Linked DNA regions of Homo sapiens: all the other regions are linked to region 2. Evidence: fine-mapped expression QTL. A gene starts in region 2. Each other region holds a variant in brackets. All regions are shown on one strand. Distances are between the middles of the regions. Region 1 overlaps PPARG (peroxisome proliferator activated receptor gamma). Region 2 holds the start of TSEN2 (tRNA splicing endonuclease subunit 2). Region 3 overlaps MKRN2OS (MKRN2 opposite strand).

The links. PIP is the estimated chance that this variant, and not a neighbour inherited with it, causes the effect. A credible set is the group of variants that fine-mapping cannot tell apart.
Region 1: its variant is the best candidate, but not a certain one, in a credible set for the expression of TSEN2 in subcutaneous fat (FUSION, PIP 0.75).
Region 3: its variant is the best candidate, but not a certain one, in a credible set for the expression of TSEN2 in sun-exposed skin (GTEx, PIP 0.64).

What each region holds. Positions count from the first base shown.
Region 1 is chr3:12,426,414-12,433,937 of GRCh38, forward strand. PPARG (peroxisome proliferator activated receptor gamma) reads left to right here. Exons shown (of 8, transcript NM_138711.6): 8 at 7,485-7,524. Among named protein-coding and RNA genes, the nearest start is that of TSEN2, 54 kb to the right of the region's middle. The variant A/G (reference allele first, on the strand shown) is at 3,158.
Region 2 is chr3:12,480,747-12,488,270 of GRCh38, forward strand. TSEN2 (tRNA splicing endonuclease subunit 2) reads left to right here and starts at 3,734. Exons shown (of 12, transcript NM_025265.4): 1 at 3,734-4,134. RefSeq lists an enhancer at 3,658-4,077.
Region 3 is chr3:12,532,935-12,540,356 of GRCh38, forward strand. It overlaps MKRN2OS (MKRN2 opposite strand), which reads right to left. Exons shown (of 4, transcript NM_001195279.2): 4 at 6,842-7,422. The coding sequence ends at 7,259. It overlaps TSEN2 (tRNA splicing endonuclease subunit 2), which reads left to right. Exons shown (of 12, transcript NM_025265.4): 12 at 1-724. Among named protein-coding and RNA genes, the nearest start is that of MKRN2OS, 8.9 kb to the right of the region's middle. The variant G/T (reference allele first, on the strand shown) is at 5,511.

The DNA of each region.
Region 1 (7,524 bases), 54 kb before region 2:
GCTCCTCAAATCATCCATGGCTCAGACCTCTGATTAATTTAAGCTGGCCCTGCTAGCGTTCTTATAAATCCCCAGCAAGATGCAGGCCCAGGAGTGGAAAGGGGAAAACATCCGGAAAGCAGCGGGGGGCAGGGAGGGGGAAGGCTGAAGGGAAAAGAAAAAGGCTGAAGGGAGCAATAATTGAGGAAGAAAGAATAGGAAAAATGTAGAAAGGACCCAAGAAAATCAGAGAAATGAGAGGAAAAGAAAGGTAAGAAGAAAATGAGGCAAGTTTACAGAGCAGTAATGAAAATAGTAATAGCTAATTTACTGTACAACAGACACTGTGCTAAGCACTTTCCGTATGTCCCTCAGTCCTCTGACCAACACTATGAGTTAAATTACCGCTACAGCTCCAATTGTTAAAGTGAGGAAACTGAAGTATAGAAAGGTTAAGGAACTTGCCCAAGGTTACCTAGCTTGCAAAGTTGTAATTCCAACTGCGTCTCACTCAGCTGGCAGTGTGCACCCTTGGCCACACATTAGAATCACCCAAGAGCTATTAAAAATCCTGAAGGTCATACCCCAGGCAAGTGAATCAGAATCTCTAGGGATGGGTCCCAGGCATTCGTTTGCTTTTTTAGTCTCCCCAGATAATTTTAATATGTAGCCAAAATTGATAATCCCTGCACTAGACCAAGCTCCGATTCAAATTTAAATATTAAGAGGACACATGTATAACTTTGCTGAATAATTTTTTCCTATCGGTAGGATGGTGGGAAGGAATTGCTATAGGCCACACCATGATACTTTGCTGAATTGGATCAGAAAAGTACCCTCAAATTCCCAGCATCATTTCTTCAAGGAAGTAGTGAATTGGGGCACCGTGGGTTTTTTGTTTTGTTATTGTTCTTAAACCACCTTGCCTATGTGCACTCAACTACAGGAACGAGAACTTGCCTGAAACCCCAAACGTGTCTGCATCAGGCATTATTTTTCTTGAGCTCCTGAATTTCTGCTCTAACCAAGAACAACTCAAAAACCTTCAATTTCATAACTGTTGATATGCCACCCACTCCTACTTACACTCCTGACCCCAACCCCATGGAAACTGCCTTTATTCGAACAAACACAAGAATTATAATATGTTCTAAAGTTCCTCTACCTATTTCATTCTCACCATACGCTTATGAAAGAAATGTCATTGTCTTGAAAACTAAGCCTAAACCCAGAAAGATTAGATGATTTGTCCACAGGCACACAGAAACTAAGTGGAAGAGAAACAGGACTCAAGTCTTCAGTTTCCCAATCCACTGCCTCCTAGAACATGCCTGTGAACTGAGGGAGCAGTGCAATAAAGGAAACTTGAGAGGAAGCGCAAAAGGAACTTAAATTGCAAAGTACTGGGTTCCCTAAGTAGCCCTGCCTCCCCTCCAGTTTTCAGCCCACACCTGAACTAAGGTCTTTCATTGTCTGTGGATCAATTTACAGCTGCCCTGCAATCACATTTGTTTTGTTTGTTTGTTTGTTTTGGTTTTGAACGCCCTAGGGACAGTCGGTTTCAGATTAGTCTCTATCAGAGAGCCAATAGGGAAAGATGCAGAAAGCCAGGAGAGCAGCTCCTAGAATAGAGACAAAACCACCTGCATTTTTTCTGCCTCTTCTTCAGGAGACTCCACTGTGGTCATCTGGTTCCCTAATTGAGACACCTCCTGAGAAAATCTGTGCTAGGGAAACACCCAGCCCAGGTGGGCAGATCTCAAGAGGACCAGAACGTTTGAATCTGCTTCAGATAAACCCTCCACTTAACAGTACCAGATCTGGACGAGATGGAAGCTTTGTAGATTTGCCCATAATCCACAGTGCTCTGTAATCAATTCCAGGACCGTGTGGATGGAGACCGGAAAGGTTTCTTTCCCAATTCTTCACAGCCTGGGGAGTAGGGAACTAGTAATTGACTCCAGCCTCCTCGAGTGCTAAGTCCTGGAGTCTGAGTCACACACACTTCCCAAAAGGGCCTTCTAAGCAGCCTACCCCAGCAGAGAGGACCCTTGGCCCTGGCCCTACTCCAGACTCAACTGTAACCTCAGCAAGGTGCAGGGAGAGGATCTCAGGTGGGCCTCCTGGCAACAGTGCCTTTTCAGGCACTAGGCTGTTGGGAATGGAGAGAGAAGAGAAAGGCCCTGGCACTGTCTGGGTATTTGGATGGATTTCTGTGGCACAACTGTGGCACCTGGCTTAGCTCAGTAAAGGACTGAGTGTGCGTGGAGCAGAAAGGGGAAAGAGACTAGTGGGGAGCTGGTGACCAGTTGGAGGGTGGAGGGTAGGGAACAACCCTGGCAGATCCATTTTGCCCTTGACTAGAGCTTAAAGACCAAAGGAAGCGTTCTTGTTTTTAAGTAAGTCAGGTGTTCTAAGTTTAATGTTAATATGCTTTTTCAATTAGATGTTTGAGTATATTTCCCCAGTTGAATTATGTAGAGGGAATTACAAATGAGAATACATCTTACAATTTTTGAATTAGAATCTTTGAGATTATCTATTTAGTCCGGTCTGTTTTGTTTAGACAAGAAAATTGAGCCCATTGATCTTAATCAGTTTGCCCAAGGTCACAGAGCTGGTGAGTGAAAGCTTTAGATGTAGAATATGCAACTTTTCTCTGCTGCCCTCCTTCCCTAAACCATCTTGCCTTAACGGAGGCTCAGTCAGGGGGACAATGGGACTGATCTGTAAATGATCTAACTTGTCATTGCAGAAAATATACTTACTCCGTGGCCACAAAATTTCAGCCCTTCAGCCAAGCTTCATCCATCACATCATAAAGAATAACTTGCCAAAGAGGGGTTTGAAAATCCAAACCAGATCCCTCTCCACTCCTAGAGAGGCCAGTTCCATGACACTGCACCGGAGCCAAGTGTTTCCAGCAAGCCCTGATCAGTTGCATGTTAGTCCTTGTTTGTATGATAAACGGGACCTAGTAGATTAACATCATCTCCTCAGCCCAAGGGCTGACCCCAGTGGTGCTGCTCAAGAGGAAGGAGGAGGCTGGGAGCGGTGGCTCCCGCTTGTCATCCCAGCACTTTGAGGGGCTGAGGAGGGCAAATCTCTTGAGCCCAGCATTCAAGAGCAGCCTGGAAAATGTAGAGATTCTGTCTCTACCAAAAAAAAAAAAAAAAAA[A/G]AAGAAGCAGGTGGAGGAAGGAGGAGCTGCAGAAAGGCTCCGGGAGCCAGTGTCTAGTAAGCAGAGGCCTAGCCCAGGCTGAGTGGTCCCAGCCCAGGAGGGCCTCTCTCGGCACCTGTCTTTAGATGCACGTCTGCCTCTGGCCTTTGAGATGCACACATTCATCAAGCAGGAGGATCTGTAGTCATTAAACCAAGGTGCCAGTCTGGGGCCCAGCCTTCAATGAAGCATCAGTGGCTTTTTCATTCCCATAGAGCAACTGCGAGGAAGACCCCATGCTCCCAGGGGCCCAATTCTCCAGGCCAGGACCAGATCATTTGTTCCTTCTCAGAATCTGAGATCTTTTGCTGATGGTTCCAAAATTGAATGCTGAAATCTAAAAAGAAAATTATACTTACTCTGGTCAATGGGATATGTTGGAGACCTGAGAGTGAAAAAATCAAACTGAAGACCAGTTTCCTTCTTTAATGGAAGAAAAGTAAGAAAGTTAACTTAGAAGAATATTTAGAGTTCTGAAAATCCCACTCTGAGACCACTCTGCCATCTCACATTGTTCTCTTGAGCCTTATCTCAATGGATAAAGGTCACTAGAGTTTATTAGACACAGGAAAACATCGTTTACAGACTTCTTCATTGTGTAGGGATTCTGCCTTCAGGCCTGTTCACCAGCCAGGAGAATTGTGCTTTTTGATCCAGGGCTCTTGGCCAGAACAGCCTTCTCGCTCATTAACTCAGTCAACCAAATGCTTCCTGTGTTTCCACTGGTGGTTCAGAACGTAGTCTCTGCCCTCTGATACCTCACGGTCTAACGGGGGAGAAACAAGAAAGTCAGAACTTACAATACAAGATAATAAGGAATAAGAGCAGAGCCTTTGGAACCAGACAGACTTAGATCCAAATGTCAGCTCTGCATTTACTAGCAAGTGGTCTATCTTGGTAAGATGCAACTCTTTTCTCTAAGTCTTAATTTCTCCCTCTGTAAAGTATGACCTCATGGGGTTATTGTGAAGATTAAATGGCATATCGTATATAAGGCCCTTGGCACGATCTTTGGAAAATAATAACCATTCAGTGAATGTAATCTACTAGTATAGTAGCGATTGAGGTGTTTATAGGGTGCTATGAGGGCCCAGAGAAAGGAGATGAGATGAACAGGAGAGAGGAAGGGATACTGTTGAGGAAGGATTTCAGGATGGAATCCCACCACAGGCTGTATTTTGAAGAAATGGTTGAAGTCAATAAGAAGAGTGAAGGGAAGGTGAGAATGTTTCAGGCAGGAAGAATAAAATCTGAATAAGTGCAGAGTCCTGACAGAACATAGGGTGTTTGAGGAACTTGGTATGGAAATAGATTAATATGGCTTAACATGGAGCAAAATGAAACAGAACTGAGACTAGAGGATGACCAGGACCAGGTCATGAAGGACATTAAAGGTGGGTAAAACTCATACCATGAAGGAGAGAAGAGTTACAGTTTTTAAAAGAAAATAAATAGCCTTCAGGAGCTCAAATTTGAAATCAATACGAGATAGATGATCAAGTGAATGTTCTGTCTTCTTGATGAGCCTGACTGAGAAAACCTTATAATCTAACCCAAGGCAACAAACTGAGAAATTAGAAAATAAAACTTAGAGATTAGAAAACAAAAACTGAAACCCAAACTTTTTACTTGGAAATTTAAAAACATGCTTCTATATAACTCTTAGGTTAAAAATGAAATCAAAATTGTAAGACAAGCTGTTTAGAAAAGAACTATGAGAGTACCGTTTATCAAAGCCCATGGGATGAAACCAAAGTGGCACTAAGAAGAAAATGTGGAGGCTTCAATGCATTTATTAGAATACAAAGAATACCAAATCAAATGAATTAAGCATTCAACTCAAGAAAACTAGAAAAAGAGAAGAAAGTAAACCTAAAGAAAGTTTTAAAAAGGAATTCAATAAATTAAAAACAAAACACACAATTTTTAAAAACAGACTTGATTAATAAAACCAAAAGCTATGTCTTTTTTAAAAAAGCAAAAAATAGATAAACCTTTGACAAATCAGATTTTTTTAATGAGAGAATGCACAAATAAAGAGCTCTAAGAGCTGGGCATGGTGACTCATGCCTATATTCCCAGCACTTTGGGAGGCTGAGGCAGGAGGATTGGTTGAGGCCAGGAGTTTAAGACCAGCCTGGGCTACGTAGCAAGACCCCACCTCTACAAAAAATTTCGAAATTAGTTGGGTGTGGCGGCTCATGCCTATAGTCCCAGCTACTTGGGAGGCTAAAGCAGGAGGATCACCTGAACCCAGGAGTTGGAGGCTGCAGTGAGCCATGATCATGCCACTGCACTGGGCAACAGATTAAGACTCTGTCACAAAAAAAAAAGCGTTAAGTTAAGGAGCGTGAATAAAAATAATACATTTCATATTCTAAGACAATATCATCTACAACTTTATTCCAATATAAATTACTAAAACTTTACCATATAAGTAGTAGAAAGCCTGAATAGATAAAAGCTATGGAAGAAAAATTAAAGATAGTGATAGATTTATCACCAAGCTCAGATGGTTCTGCAAACAAATTCTAAGAAACCGTCAGGGAACAGATCATTACTGCGTTGACACAGAAGGCAAACCTCTCAACTTGGTGTATAAGGCTAGTTAACATTGTTACTAAAACAGGCAAAGAATGGCCCCCAAAATAACTCTAAACCAGTATCACCTACAAATACAAAAACTCTATATAAAATATTAGCAAGTGAGTACAAGAGTATAAGGAACTCTATTAATGTAATTCACTGTGCTAGGTTAAGATAAAACCATAACTCTTCAGATATCATAGCTCTTTAGATAGAAAAATGTAAAAGTATTTGATAAAAATTCAACAACATTCCTGACTAAAACAAATTAAAATTGTAAAACCCCTGGAAAGCCAGGAGTAAAACATGTTCTCCATAATCTATAGCAAACATCATAGTTGCTGATAAACCATTAGAAGCATTTCCTTCAAAGTTAGGAATAAAACAAGAATTGCTACTATTGCTACTATTATTTAATCCCATATTGGAGGTTTTAGCCAACACACTATGGCAAGAAGAGGAAATGAGAAAGGTTAATGCTGCAAAAGAAGAAATAAATAAAGCTACCATTGCTGATATAATTATCTATCCAAAAAAAGTAGAAATCCATGATTAAAAGCTATTTGAACTGATAAAAGTTCAGAAAATTGGAATTGTTTCAATATACTAAAATCAATTAGTTTTCTGCACATCAGTGGGGATATATTAGATGTAATGAAAATGAAGGGTCCATTCACAATAGAAGCTATAAAGTATTTGAGAATAAATCTAACAAGATCTACATAAAGAAAAAAGTAAACTGCTTAAAAGTAATTTAAGTTCACCATTTGCAAATTGAACTAAAGAAAAATCTAAAGAAGAACTAGTGAAAATTGCTTGCAATCTTACCACTGAAAAGAAACCTCTGTTAAAATGTATCAGTATTTTAAAACTGTGTTTTGTCCTTTGGAAATATGCCATATTAAGCAAACATAGCATAAGCAAATTAAGCAAAAAGACAAACCTTTTTTTAAAAGCATATTTGTGAAAAAAGCATATTTGAAGCTATGATAAGAAACTGAGTAGAAGCTATAAAACGTAGATTCATCAGGAAGGAGCAGAAGTTGAAAAGGAGATTTCTGGCTGGGCACAGTGGCTCATGCCTGTAATCCCAGCACTTTGGGAGGCCAAGGCGGGTGGATCACTTGAGGTCAGGAGTTTGAGACAAGCCTGGCCAACATGGTGAAACCCTATCTCTACTAAAAATACAAAAATTAGAAAGGCGTGGTGGTGAGCACCTATCATCCCAGCTACTCAGGAGGCTGAGGCAGGAGAATAGCTTGATCCCGGGAGGCATAGGTTGTAGTGAGCCGACGTCATGCCACTGCACTCCAGCCTGGATGACAGAGCAAGACTCCATCTCAAAAAAAAAAAAAAAGAAAAGAAAAGAAAAGGAGATTTCTGAGTAGAAACACGTTAGCAGAGGAAACTTCATTTGGGGAACAGGATTGTTTTGATGCCATGCTCCCTCAGCTGACCACACAGATTACATCCTGGCCAGAAAAAGGCCCTGCAAAGAGCTCTGATCATTTTGGTTCTGATTCCATCCTTAGTTCTTACCCATTATCTGCTTACCCTTCCTCCCCACCTATTTAAGATACAAAGCAAAACAAACCAAAAATACAGATGAGTTGCTTGGTAGAGCTGCCTAGGCCTCCAAGGCGGGGCCCAGAGGATTTTTTGACTGAACCCCCTGTTGTGTTTTCCATATGTGCTTCCCCAGACCGCCCAGGTTTGCTGAATGTGAAGCCCATTGAAGACAT
Region 2 (7,524 bases):
TGGTCTTGAACTCCCACCCTCAGGTGATCAACCCACCTCGGCCTCCCAGAGTTCTGGGATTACAGGCATAAGTCACCGCGCCCGGCCTGTCATGTTTTGTTAATGCATTGCCCTCCTGTATCCAGCATGACAGATTAAAAGAGCATAAGCCCCGTAGATCCGTATCCTCATCTGGCCTTCACTACTTCCTAGCAATGACACCATGGGCATGTGCGGTAACCTTGGCTGCAGAAGAGAGGTAAGAACACCAATCTCACAGCCCTGTTATGAGAATTAAATAAGATCATGGATGCAAAAGTGGCTGGCACATAGTAAGTGCCCAATAAATTGTCACTAGGGTGGCCAGATAAAATGTGAGGCACCCAGATTAACTTGAATTTCAGATAAACTTTTTTCTTAAGTATATCCCAAATATTACTTGGAGGTTCTGGGCACATTTCACCGATAACTGTTCATTGTGTTAGATGTGCTAGTGATACTGGGGATATGTTGATATAGTCCATCCTCCCTACTCTTGGATTCTGTATTTACAAACTCACCTAGTTGCTAAAACTTATTGGTAACATCACAATCAATACTTCACTGTCACAGTCATCTGCAGATGTGTGCATGCACAGAATACCAAAAAATTTGAGTCACACAGTGTGCACATTCCCAGCTGCAGGTGAACAAGGAGACTCTGCCTTCTTGTTTCAGCTCTCATACCATAAATAAGTATGCTTTTTTGAGCTCTAGTTTGTGCCATGTTTTTCACATTTTTGTGCTTTTTGTTGGTGATTTAACTGTTTAAAATGGCCCCAAGTGGAGTGCTGAAGTGCTGTCTGGTGTTCCCCACCCAAGAAATGTGCCTTATTGGAGAGAATAGGTGTGTTAGATAAGCCTCCTTTAGGCAGGAGTTATAGTGCTGTTGGCTGCGAGTTCAGTGTTGATGAATCAACATATGTAAGGTGTCTTTAAACAGAAACACATGAAGTGAGGTTATATATTGACCAGTTGATGAAAATGCTGTGACCAGAGACTCACAGACACCTAACCTTGTATCTTGTATTTCTCCTGGAAACATGGTTCAGTATTTACTAATTCAGTGTTTGTGGCAACTTTATAGAACAGAATTACCTCAAATAATGAGAATGAACTACACAGTTGATATATGTGTGTGTGTGTGTGTGTGTCTGCGTATATATATATATATATATGTAGATGCAGATGTATTGTAATAAAATTAAGTCCTTATCTATTAGAGATACCTACTGAAATATCATGGATGAAGTTATATCATGTCTGGGATTGTTTTAAAATACTCCAGCAAGGAGATAAAAGTGTGTATATCGAGAATGCAAAAGAAATGAGATACCAAAGGTTGAAGGTTGTAGAAGCGATTTTTTATTTTTGAGACAGAGTTTTTACTCTTGTTGCCTAGGCTGGAGGGCAATGGTGCAATCCCGACTCACCACAACCTCCACCTCCCCGGTTCAAGCAATTCTCTTGCCTCAGCCTCCAGGGTAGCTGGGATTATAGGCATGCACCACCATGTCCAGCTAATTTTGTATTTTTAGTAGAGATGGGGTTTCTCCATGTTGGTCAGGCTGGTCTCGAACTCCCAACCTCAGGTGATCCACCCGCCTCAGCCTCCCAAAGTGCTGGGATTACAGGCATGAGCCACCGTGCCCGGCCAGAAGTGATGATTTATTGGACTGTTTTCTCTACTTTTGTGTTGTATGTTTGAAAATAACCATATCAAAGGGTTTAAAATGCACTTGAGAAAGTCTTGGGGAAAATTTCTTTCTTTTTTAAAATTTACAGATTTTTTTTCTTTTTTTAATTTCTTTTTTTATGTTTTTGGGAGGGGAATTTGAGATCCCATTATCAGCAAACCCCAAATCCTTCCACGAGCTGGGATGGGATTTAAGAGACCTGGCTCTAGTCTCAGCCCCACCTCAGACCTGCTCGGTTATCTCTGACAACTCACAGTGCCACTGGAACTGTTTTCTTATCAGTTAAATAAGGAAGTTTAACTGGACAACCTCTGAATCCCTTTCATTGTTAAAGCCCTCTAATTCTAAAACCAGTATTTCTTAAATTGGCATGTTCTGGTCGGATATTACAGCCTCTCTTCAGCTGTCTCTCCCCTGCCCAATCCATCCTGTTACCATATCCTGTGACTCTTGCCAATTTTCTCCCTTTCTTTTGCAACATTCTTACCACAAAGCTCTTTGATTTTGGTTTATCTAAAACCTGAACTCCCTAGCCTAGCAGTGAAGGTCCTTGCAGCAGAGGACCCACTGAATGCTGCGACATGATCTCACTCTACCAAGAGCAAGCCCACAGTGCAGTTCAAAAAGGGCCAGGCAGGATGCAGTGGCTCAAGCCTGTAATCCCAGCACTTTGGGAGGCCGAGGCGGGAGGATCGCTTGAGGTCAGGAGTTTGAGACCAGCCTGGCCAACGTGGTGAAACCCCGTTTCTACTAAAAATATAACAATCAGCCGGGCGTGGTGGCAGGCGCCTGTAATCCGAGCTACTCGGGAGGCTGAGGCAGGAGAATCACCTGAACCTGGGAGGCAGAGATTGCAGTGAGGTAAGTGAGCTGAGATGGTGCCACTGCATTCCAGCCTGGGCGACAGAGCCAGGCTCCGTCTCAAAAAATAAAAAGGGCCAGAAAAACAGGGACAACACATGCCATGCCAGACTACTGCAGAGCACAGAGGCAAGTCACCCAAGCAGGTCTGGGAAGGCAAGAAGTCTCCTGGAAGAGGTGATATTTGAGCTGAGACCTAAAGGCTGACCAGGAATTACTGCAGCTAACAGAGGGGAGGGAACATAGAGGCAACAGCATGCGTGAAGGAATGGAGGCAAGAACATTGGCAGAAGTCCAAAATTCAACATCCATCATCACATCTAGCACCATGAATCTCTCCAGCAGTATTTGCCACACTTCCTTGCCATCCTCCTTTGCCTCCTGCTTAGTCTGTGTGGTGGAACTCCTGTGATTCATATTTGGGAAAGTATATATTGGACTCCCCACAGGGCTCCTTTAAAATAACCAGGTCAGGAGAAACTTACACTTCCTATTGCACTCCAGTTTTGCTCATCTCCCGTAATTCTGATGGCCCATTTTTCAGTAAACTCAAGCTCAGAAAGGTTGTCAGTCATTCAAGCTCACGCAGCCAGTGAGGGGGGAAAATGGGGATGCAGAGCAGGTGGACCTGCCGCCTATTGTCCCTTAACTGCACAGGCAGTCTGGGCACACAGAGGCTTCTGGCCAGGTGTCTGCCAGAGAAAACGTCCTTGCAAGTTCCCCGCATGCTGCAGCGTACACAGGTGCGCTGCTGTGATCCTCTTTCTACATTGAGAAAGATGAGATCAGTTTCCTCAGGGCCATTTAATAAAGTCCTGTCGGTCGCCTCAAACATCCCATCCACCGAGGGCCGAAGATTCTAGGTCTCTCCCACCTCCCACGTGACTATGTGACATTTGACGGGTAACTGCATCTCATCTGTAAAATGCGTCTTGCAGGATCGTTCTGGCTTCCGTACAATCCTGCAGAGAGCAGCAAAGCGCGCACGCAGCCTCCGCCTCATACTCCGCAGTGGCAGAGCTGGCGCACAGAACACCCGCCAGCCGGCCGTGCGCAGGCGCACTCCGCCAAGTCCCGACGGGAGCTCTGCGGCTGCGCACTCGGCTGGCTTTGCGGCCGCACTGCTTGACGGCAGCGGTGTCCGCCCCACGGCCGGCGTTGCCGGGGTAACGGCGAGCGCGTGGGGCCAAGAAAGGTAAGGGCCCTGGGCGAGGAAAGCGCGGCCCTTTCCGAGTTTGGTGTTTTGCAGCGAAAGGAAATCTCGCTCTTCCGAAAGTCCTCCAGGGCGAGAGAGGAAAGGGCCTAGGTACTGTGCTGGGGTCGCACAGCCGGCCGAGACAGTGCCGGGACGGGGAGCCAGGCTTCCGAGTGCGCCCGGTCACTGACTCCTCCGCGCTTTCCTCGTGCGCCTGCAGCCCTTGGTTCTTGGAAACGCCGGCGCCTTGTTCAGGGCTGGTGGGGCTGGGGCGCAAGGTGCAGCTGACAATGCCCGAGAGGAGCCGCAGCCTCTGGTGGAGTTCGGTCGGGTGTGGGGGTAGTCAAGGAAAGAAGCAAAGGGGTAAGACAGGGAGTTAGGAATTGGCGGGGCCCCTAACGCTGTTGGGGTGCGCAGTTTATTTTATTTGCAGCTGTCGTCTGGTGAGCGCTTTCCACGTGGTAGGCCCCGAACGAAACGCCTTCTGCAAAATTATGCATTTAATCCTGACAACAACTTTCAAAGGCTGGTCATCTGTTTATATGGCTTATTCTCAGGTTCTAACTTGAAAGCTCCCCAGAGGCAGGATTGTTTACCTTGTGCCTTTCATCCTTGCCTCCCTAAGCCCAGGAGGTGCGCAGATGGAGCTTGAAGCGTGTTTTGGTTGGGAGAAGGTGAGATTTGCTGGGTAGGAGGTTTTTTAACCAGGTTTGTTTGGCACCTAGTCCAGGAAGGTTGGAAAATTAAATGGAGCCACCTCTCCCTTTTTTGTTTTTCTAATAGACATTTACCATCACCTAAGAGGTGTTAGCCTGTGTGCTCGAGGGAAGAATAAGAAACAGACTCTGCTTTTAATAGAAAGTAAGAATATGCAGCTCTGGAGTCAGGTTGCGCAGGTTGGGGAAATAAGAAGTAAAGATTTCTCAGGGGTGCGCCCGGCCCCTCCGAGTCACTTTCCACATCTGTACAATGGAAATAAAAATAGTCTTTACCTCCGGGGGCTACTGGGATTAAGTGAATTTGAATAGACCTTGCTGTTACCAGTGGTTAGCTATATGTTAAAATCAGCTGGGTCCACCCAGGAAATTCTGATGTAATTGATTGCAGGTGAGGCCTGGGCATGAGGAGTTAAGGGTAGGTAAGCTTGAGGGCCACTGTGTGATGTACCACTCCCAGGTTTAATTTTCTTAATCTGCATTTTTCAATCATCATTCTAAATAACCTGCAGTGACTCCAATTCCAAACCAACCTTTGCATCCCAAACCTCTTGACAACTGACCCAGTCTTTCCTATATGTTTTTGTGCACCTCAGGCACCGCTCTTCTTTCATATCTGTGGAATGAGGATAGTACAGTCAGCTCTCGCTATCAGGTTCCGAATCTGTGGATTCAACCAATGTTGCATCAAAAATATTTGGAAAAAGAAATTTAAAAATATATATATATAACAATTATTTAGTATTTACATTGTATTAGGTATTCTAAGTAATCTAGAGAAGACTTAAAGTAGATGGGAGGATGGGCATAAGTTACATGCAAATACTACATTTTATTTAAGGGACTTGAGCTGCGGATTTTGGTAGGGGGTGAGTCCTGGAACCAGTCCTTCTGTGGATACCAAGGGATGACTATAGTACCCACATGTGCAGCACATGCAGTGAGTGCCTCTGGCATCTGGTACCTACCTATGACAGTTTCCTCTTCTTATTTTACTCACATCCCACCTCTTACAGCATGCTGTTCTGCCGCGACACTAAAGAACCTTCTTGAATATCCATTGCAGATATGGGGAATGGTAAATGCAGTCTTTTCTCCTCTGCTTTGCCTTTCGAGTTCAGCACAGGAGGACTCTTCCATGAAACTAGAGATCATCTGATTTGTCCTCTTGAATTTTTCCCCCTGGGGAAGTGAGCTCTACCTTCCCTGAGGGTTTCTTTCTATCTTTTCTAGAAGCTTCACGCTGGTATCTGTGAAGTCATTCTTGCAGGACATGGCCTGGGGAATGTCTTTACTTCTGAATTTTTTAAAATAGCTTTATTGAGATACCATATAATTCTGTAAAAGTCACCCTTCTGAAATGTACGAGTCAGTGGTCTTCGTATTCGCGGAGTTATGTAACCATTACCATCACTACAATCTAATTTTAAAACATTTTCGTCACCCTCCAAAATAAACCTCCTGTCTTATTAGCAGTCGCCCCCCCATTTCCCACTTTTCCCTGTCTCTGGCAACTGGTAATCTGTCTCTATGGATTTGTCTATTCCGGAAACTTTATCTTAATTGTCTCGTGGTCTTTTGTGTCTGACTTCTTTTAGCATAATGCTTTCAGGTGTTGAAGAATGTATCCGAACTTCATTCCTTTTCTATGGCTAAGTATTTGATTATATGGATAGACCACATTTTGTTGATCTGGTCAACTATTGATGGACATTTGGATGGCTTCCACTTTGATGCTATTATGAATAATACTGTTGTGAACATTCACATACAAATTTTTCCATGAACATATGTTTTCATTTCTCTTAGGTCTATACCTAGGGGTGGAGTTGCTGGATCATGTCGTAACTATGTGTTTGACATTTTGAGGAACTGCCAGACTCCTCCAGTCCTGTTCGATTTGAAGATGAAACTGGGCTTAGAGAAAGTGGGTTGTGCAAGGTCACACAATAATAATGGCGGCTTTGCATGTCTGGAAGGCCTACTGCGAGCCAAATTCCTGAGGGGTGTGCAGCCACATGAGCAAGAGTAACACAAGAACTTGGATTATGAGGGGTGTTTTGTCGCAGGGACCCTTCCATCCCACACACCTGGGTTGGAGTACAGAGTTCTTTCGATCAAGTGTCACAGCTAAATCTTGCCTTTTTTAGATGTGACAGCAGTCTGAGAGGGAAAAACGCTGAACAAATGAGGCAGACTAAAATACAACTCTTATTTGTTGAGAGAATTTATTAGAACTTCTTGAAGGTGGCCATTAAATCTTTTTTCATTTTTTTAAAATTCCGAATGTAATGTATATAAGTCAGCTGCTGAGCAGAGGTTATAAAAGTGAAAAATCCCATAAAAGTCCAAACCATTCCTGGAAGTCTTTCAAAAAGTGCCTTACTAGAGACCAACATCCTGCCCCCAAAAAGCAGTGTTTATTTTCAGTTTTAGAATAAATTATTGTCTCTCCAATTGAGTACTAAATGTGATAATTTAGTACTTGGGCTGAGGGATAAGTCAGCAAGCAAGGTAAAGCCTAGTCTAAATATGCTCTTAAGAAAATCTCTTAGGTTTCCTGTGAGCATGCAGTAGACGTGGTTTTGTTATAAACACTATACAGCAAGATGCATGCATAAATATAAAATGTACAAAGTAATGCTCAGTATGTAATTCCTTCAAGGAACCTTATTTAGAAATTAATCTAGCATGTTGCTGCTTAGAACAATGGCAATTCTAGGAAGGTTCCAACTTCCCGATTCTTCTTTTTCATGGTTATCTTTGTAATTGATGTATCATTTCCTCTAACTCCTCTTTAGTCTGTGTTTTTCTGTGTCCTCATATAATTCCTCAGCTTCTTCCTTGAGAAGTTGGATACTGATATCATCACACGTTGGATAAGCCTTTTCTTAATGGTCATGACACTCTTAAAGCCACTCACCTTCCCCTCCCTCAGTTTTGGCCACCTTCTTGACTGTTTCAGGCTTGATGGCATCCCTTGCCAATGGGATGCAAGTACTGAGTGCAGGAGCCACCTAAGTAATTAGTCTTATTT
Region 3 (7,422 bases), 52 kb after region 2:
CTAACTCTCCAATCCAGAGCCTCCTGCCTCTGGCGTCAGTCTTTTCCCTCATCCACTCACTGGGGAGATTGGACTAGAGGAGTCCTGAGAGGACACTTCCAACAAGAGACATTTATTCTCTGATTTTACCTGAAAATGGTAGTAGTTTACATTTATACAGTACAGTTTATGAAGCACTTTCATACGCAGGCATCTCTTGTTACCTACATCTAAGCTGTTCCCGAAAGAGTGTTACAGAACACAACAGTATTGTACAATATTCGATAAGCATATCTTCACTGCACTTGTTATAAAAATGAGTGGTGAAATAATGTTTGGAGACATAATGAAAGCGATTAACATTTGGCAAAATATAATAAAGCCTTTTTGTAATTGGTGAGAAAGTCATGAAGACTTAAGTTGCCTCAGGGCATCTGGTGGCAAGAGGAGGGAGATGGGTGGCTGGGCATGGTGGCCCATACCTATAATCCCAGCACTTGGGAGGCCTTGGGAGGCCAAGGCGCATGGATCGCTTGAGCCCAGGAGTTGGAGACCAGCTTGGGCAACATGGTGAAACCTCCTCTCTACTAACAAAAATTATCCAAGCATTGTAGCACATGCCTGTAATTCCAGCTGCTCAGGAGACTAAGGTAGGAGGATCGCTTGAGCCCAGGAGGAAGAGGTTGCAGTGAGCGGAGATTGTGCCACTGCAATCCAGCCTGAGCAATAGAGCAAGGTCCTGTCTCAAAAAAAAAAAAAAAAAAAAAAAAAAATGTGGGTGGTGGGGAAATGGGAAGGGGGAATACTTGCTCTTCGGTGGTAGAATACTTAGGCTAAGGTGGTAGCCTGAGCTGTATCCTCTTAATGGGTCCAGACACTACTTGAATGATATTGCTGCAAACCCTTACATGTTTGTTATATTTAATTTGGATAGCCAATATGGGGTAAAATATTTTGCAAACCGTGATAGCAAACATTTGGAGAGTGGGAGTTGAGATGCGGCAGATGCCTGTGTATTTATCCCTGCAGCAGCCTTGTGAATTCAGGAGGAGGGACCCACAGAGGGGTGTTTGAAGCTCAGAGATGTTGGCGGGTGTGCATCACTACCAGTCATGCACGTGGAGGACTGGACCTGAGATCACTATCTCAGCTGAAATGGCGCTATCCTAAAAATTGCATGCAGTCAGAAATAGAGCCCTGTTTGGTGGTGGTGGTGGTTAACAAGGAAGGCCACCCACCACATCGGGCAGGGCCAGCTTTGTGCTCCCACACAGTCCTCTACCTCGGGTGGGGTGCAGCCTGAAGCCCCCTTACTTACTGGTTATGCCTGTGATTTTGCAAACAGTGTCAGAAAGATTCCATGACGACCACCTATGGATCCAAGGGTAAGAACCTTGGTGCAGTGTGTGGTACTTGGCTTTTAATTCCCCAGAGAGAATTCTGAAAACTGAGTAGTGAAATGAACCTTCTAGAAAGGAATGCTTCAAATCTCAGCTCTGCTTCCCTGTGGTGGTGTGCCTTGGGCAGTTTACTTGCCCTTGATAACCTCAATTTTCTTATTTCTAGCATGTGGCTAATGATGTTTACCTAATCGTGTGGTTGTGTGGGTAAAGGAGAGCCCAAAAAACACTGTAATCCCAGCACTTTGGGAGGCCGAGGTGGGTGGATCACGAGGTCAGGAGATCAAGACCATCCTGGCTAACACGGTGAAACCCCGTCTCTACTAAAAAATACAAAAAAACTAGCTCAGGCGTGGTGGCAGGGCCTGTAGTCCCAGCTACTCAGGAGGCTGACGCAGGAGAATGGCATGAACCCAGGAGGTGGAGTTTGCAGTGAGCCGAGATCGCGCCACTGCACTCCAGCCAGGGCGACAGAGCGAGACTCTGTCTCAAAAAAAAAAAAAAAAAAAAGATTAGCTGGGTGTGGTGGTGGCACCTGTAATCCCAGCTTCTTAGGCTGAGGCAGGAGAATCACTTGAACCTGGGAGGTGGAGGTTGCAGAGAGCCGAGATCAAGCCACTGCACTCCAGCCTGGGGGCAGAGTGAGACTCCATTAAAAAACAAAAACAAAAAAAACCTGAAGTTTCATTGTTACTTATTGACAACTTTAAATTGATAATTTAAAAAAATTTGTCTTAATCATTTTACCTTTATTGTTACAACGTATTTGCTTTCTCTTTTTTTAAGAAAAAAAAATTCTATTTACTTGAATGTGGTTCTTATTTTCACCCTTGTGGAGAATTACTTGGATTAAAAAGAAACAAATTTTCTCTCCTCCCCACCACCCACCTCCCATGTATGATTTTACTAACTGAATTGAATTTTTAAAATCTCATTACAGACTTGAATAATCATCCCATGAATGTTAACTCCCCTAACACTATAACCGAGGCCCATTTCTAAAGTTGATCTTAAAACTGGAAAATTTGAGTCTATCTAATTTTGTGAAATATAGGGATGCCTTTTACATGATGTAAAAGTCATATTTGTAAAATGGTTAAACTAGGAGGCAATATTTTTATTGCAAGTATGATCTCTTAAGTGAAAGGTTTCTGTCATTTAAAATTTTTAGAGTCTTTATATTTTCATAAACAGTATTTCAAAGGCAAATGTTCTTTCTAACGTTGTGTGTGTGTGAGATGGAGTTTTGCTCTTGTTGCCCAGGCTGGAGTGCAGTGGTGAGATCTTGGCTCACTGCAACCTCCACTTCCTGAGTTCAAGCGATTCTCCTGTCTCAGCCTCCCAAGTAGCTGGGATTACAAGTGCCCGCCACCATGCCTGGCTAATTTTTGTATTTTTAGTAGAGACAGGGTTTCACCATGTTGGCCAGACTGGTCTCGAACTCCTGACCTTAGATAATCTGCCTGCCTCGGCCTCCCAAAGTGCTGGGATTTTCCTAACTTTTAAATGGCACATTCTGGTAAAGTAGAATCAGAAAACTCGGGTCCACATTTCAAATCACCACTGGGAAAACAGGGGCGACGTTGGAAACGTTGCTTGATCACTCCGAGCCTTGGTTTCCTCAACAGTAAAATAAGAATAATTACCACCTCCTCAGTTGCTTTGCAGACTGAATGAAATGAGATGACATACAAAAGCGTCTGGCACACAGTAGGTGTACTTTTCCCCTTTCAGACAAAGTGTAAGCATTGCCATCCTTATTTTCTCTAGGAAGTGCAAAGCCTATTTTATGCCCTGGTAGGTGAGTCAGTGGAGGAGAAGAAGGTGGTAGAAAAATAGCTGGAGGTAAAGTAGTGAAGACAGCAGAGGAGATTGGGAGGAGAGGCAATACTGTAGTAAGCACCTGCTATACACAGGGAGCTAGATGCAGCCATTGTGGGGTTTTGTTTTGTTTTGTTTTTTAGTAATGGTAGGTTTTCCTGGTTCTAGGAGTAATTCATGCATGCTGTAGAGGCTTTGGAAGATTACCTTTGTATAGATCATTTTAGTGTTTCAGATAGGAAACACTGTGGCACTTGCTGTGAAAAGGATCCTGGTGGTCATCCCATGAACATTGATTGAGTCCCAGATGTGTGCTCCGGGGAGTGCTGAACAATGGAATAAAGAAGCACATCTCAGGAGGTGCTGGGAAGAAACTTGGGATTTCATCTGGGGAACAGAGTTGCTGCCAGTGCTTCAGTTAGCATTTAGCTGGTACGATAAAGGAAACTTAATCTAAGGAGTCTCAGTTCATAATTCTACAGACTGAGCAACATTGCCATCTGTTGGTGTAAATCAATGGCTGATTTCCTTTATTAGGGGCAAAACCTATAGATTGGTATGTGGTCTTATTTATAAGAGGAGGGGGCCAGGCGCGGTGGCTCATGCCTATAATCCTAGCACTTTGGGAGGCCGAGACGGGTGGATTGCTTGAGGCCAGGAGTTCAAAAACTAGAGTGGCCAACATGGTGAAACCCCGTCTCTACTAAAAATACAAAAAATTAGCCGGACGTGGTGGCAGGCACCTGTAATCCCAGCTACTCAGGAAGCTGAAGCAGGAGAATCACTTGAACCCGGGAGGTGGGAGGTTGCAGTGAGCTGAGAGCACGTCACTGCACTCCAGCCTGGGCAACAAGAGCAAAACTCCGTCTCAAAAAAAAAAAAAGGAATTCGTAGCCTGCTGAAGTGAGAGAGAAGAAATATGAGGCCAGCTCTTGCCAATGTCACCTCCAGGTTGGAGAGCACCCCCTAAAATAAGAAATGGGGACCATCTAAAGCTTTCCTTGAAAATTAAGGGGTGAGAATCCCAGCACTTTGGGAGGCTTAAGTGGGAGGATCACTTGAGACCAGCCTGGGCAACATAGTGAGACCCCGTCTTTACAAATAATTTTAAAAAATTAGCTGGGTGTGGTAGCATGCATCTGTAGTCCCAGCCACTGGGAAGGCTGAGGTGGGAGAATTGCCTGAGCCCAGGAGGTTGAGGCTGCAGTGAGCCGTGATTGTGCCTCCGGAATCCAGCCTGGGCAACAGAGGAAGACCCTGTCTCCAAGAAAATAAATAAATGAAAAAGAAAAGAGCTGCAGCCCCTAAGGGAAATTAGCATGAAATAGGCATTTCTTATATTATTTATTTTAGCTGACTTTTATTGTTTACCTCCTTTCCATGTTTGAATGTTGATAAAAGCAAATCCTCATTTTCTCCTTTTTCTTCTCTAATGATGGCAAAGTATTGACCCAGTTTCTGCACATACTAGGTACAGTTGGTCCCTTTCGATTTGCTGGGGTTGTCCTCTTGACCACTGCAGTGTGGCCCAGGGGTTAAGGGCACAGCTTTCATGGTCAAACCCTGGTTTGAACCCCAGTTTTGCCACTGTATGACTTTGGACATTTCCTCAATTTCCCTTTTCATCTATAAAAGAAGCATAATGTTAAGACCCACCTCAGAGGATGGTCTTGAGGATTGACAAGGAAGAATAAGTGTTTCTTCTGGTGGGGAGTCCTTTATGAATACTCATTAAATGCAGCTGCCGTTACTACTAATAATGAGTAAAGAATTAGACTAGAGAAGCTGAATCCTAGTATAAAATGTGAAGAAATGGGGGCAAATTGGAATTCTTTCATCTTTACCCTCTGGGGTTTTGTTGATTTCTTGAACACCATGGAATACTAGTCATAGTTCTGCTTAAAATGGTATCAAATTCTGGGTGGGCAGTTTTGTGTTTGAAGGAAAGTACCTGAGCTTGTAAATGCAAATGTCGCTATGCCATGCATTCTTTCCCATTGACGTTAACTGTGCTGAAACATGGACTAAATGCCTATTTGGAAACAAGCTTTAAGGATCTGTAGCAAGTTTTCTGAATATCTTTATTACTAATGTTAAAGGATAAAACACATTAAAGTTTATTTGAGCAAACAGCCATTCGTGAATCAAGCCGCACCAAAACTGAAGTGGTTCGGGCTCCCGAAAGAGGGTGTGAAGGGAGGCTTTTAGAGGGTGTGTGAGGAGGCACAGGAGAGAAGTTGGTTGGTTAAAGTTTGAGCAGTTGTCTTATTTAGGTTATCCCAGTGGCAAGTATCTGATTGTGTAACTAAC[G/T]CTCAGTTGGCCATTTAGGATTGGCTGATCTGAAGTTTCATTTAGTTTAATTTGGAACTGGGTGTTGGATCCATCTCGGTGTAATGGCTTCCCCCTAAGTTATTTTAACACGAGGCGGTTATTGGTACCTTTAAGATGGGTTTCATTTTTGGAAATTAGACATCAGTTAGTACCAAGGCTGGGGAATAAGATTAAGTGAAGTAGTACATCACATTTGGTCAAAAACAACCAAGTTCTGGAAGAAGTTTCCAAAGAGGAATTTGGGAATGTTTTGCATGTTGGCCTTTTGAAGTTCGATGATTGTTTCAGTGCACAAACTCCAACATACTTGTTAAAAATTACCTCATTTCTTTACAGTTTCTCATCCCAGTTTCCCCAGCCTCCTGTGAAGGTGTCAGAGAAAGAAGATAGCCCTCTCTTCATGTGCTTTCTGAACTCTGCCTTTTCAGTGGGCAGAGGAAGTGCTTTGTAGCAGCAAACCCAACCCCTGAGCCTCCATGTGTCGGGTCAGGCAAAATGAAATTGACACAGGCTGGAATTTTACTGATTTCAGTCATTGCTGGGCTCGTTTGTGCAAATAGACTCAGAAGAGCTCCTTTAAAAGGAGTGACCATTTCCTGATTTAGATTCTGAGGGGGTTTTTGGTTTTTTTTACTGTTGTTCACTATCATGAGCTTACCATGTGCTTTTTTCTTTTTTTTTTTCTTGTGATGTAGTCTCGCTCTGTCGTCCAGGCTGGAGTCCAATGCTGCGATCTTGGATCACTGCAACCTCTGCCTGCTGGGTTTAAGCGATTCTCATGCCTCAGCCTCCTGAGTAGCTGGGATTACAGGCACGCACCACCACACACGGCTAATTTTTGTATTTTTAGTAGAGACGGGGTTTCACTATGTTGGCCAGGCTGGTCTGGAACTCCTGACCTCAAGTGATCTGCCCGCCTTGGCCTCCCAAAGTGCTGAGAGTACAGGCGTGAGCCACTGCATCCAGCTCTTAGCATGTGCTTTTAAAGTAAAAACCACGAGGAGAAGGTACTCATTACTTCATAACTTGTGTCTCACCCACCTTGCTGTCTTCACATCCCCACTTTCTGTATGCACATTGGAAGGTGAATTTGTTCAGCTCACATTAATTTATAGGAATAATTTTCATTGCTCTGTGAATAAAATGTGCTACCACTTTATGCTGTAAATGGATTCTTAGTTTAAAAACCTCATTGATATGAAAATAATTTTGTTGGAATGCATATAATTTTTAAAACCTAGGGCAATTTTTATTTTATGAAGTCTTATGATGTAGTAAGCTGACATATGCTTGAAGGAAAGCCATACACGTTTTTATTTTTTATTTTTTATTTTTTTGAGATGGAGTTTCACTCTTGTTGCCCAGGCTGGAGTGCAATGGCACGATCTCAACTCATCCCAACCTCCGCCTCCCGGGTTCAAGCGATTCTCCTGCTTCAGCCTCCCTAGTAGTTGGGATTACAGGCATGCGCCACCATGCCCAGCTAATTTTATATTTTTAGTAAGGACGGGGTTTCTCCATGTTGGTCAGGCTGGTCTCAAACTCCCAACCTCAGGTGACCTACCTGTCTTAGCTTCCCAAAGTGCTGGGATTACAGGTGTGAGCCACCATGCCCGGCCCATACACGCTTTTATTAACCACAGTTAAATGCATTTAGAAATCCATAGTACTGATTAAAGGTAGCAACCACCCTACCCTCCAGCGTCCAGGCTGCGCTTACATAGCTCTCAGCACAAACCGCCGCCCTCAGGGGGTTGTGCCTGCTGCTGGGGACAGTCAGTGACGTAGAAGCCATGCTCCCGTATCGCCCGGTAGAGTGTGATGAACTTGGATGCCAGCCTTGTCCGCGGGACCACGTACTTCTCCGTAAATTCACCCTTGTCCAGTTGCT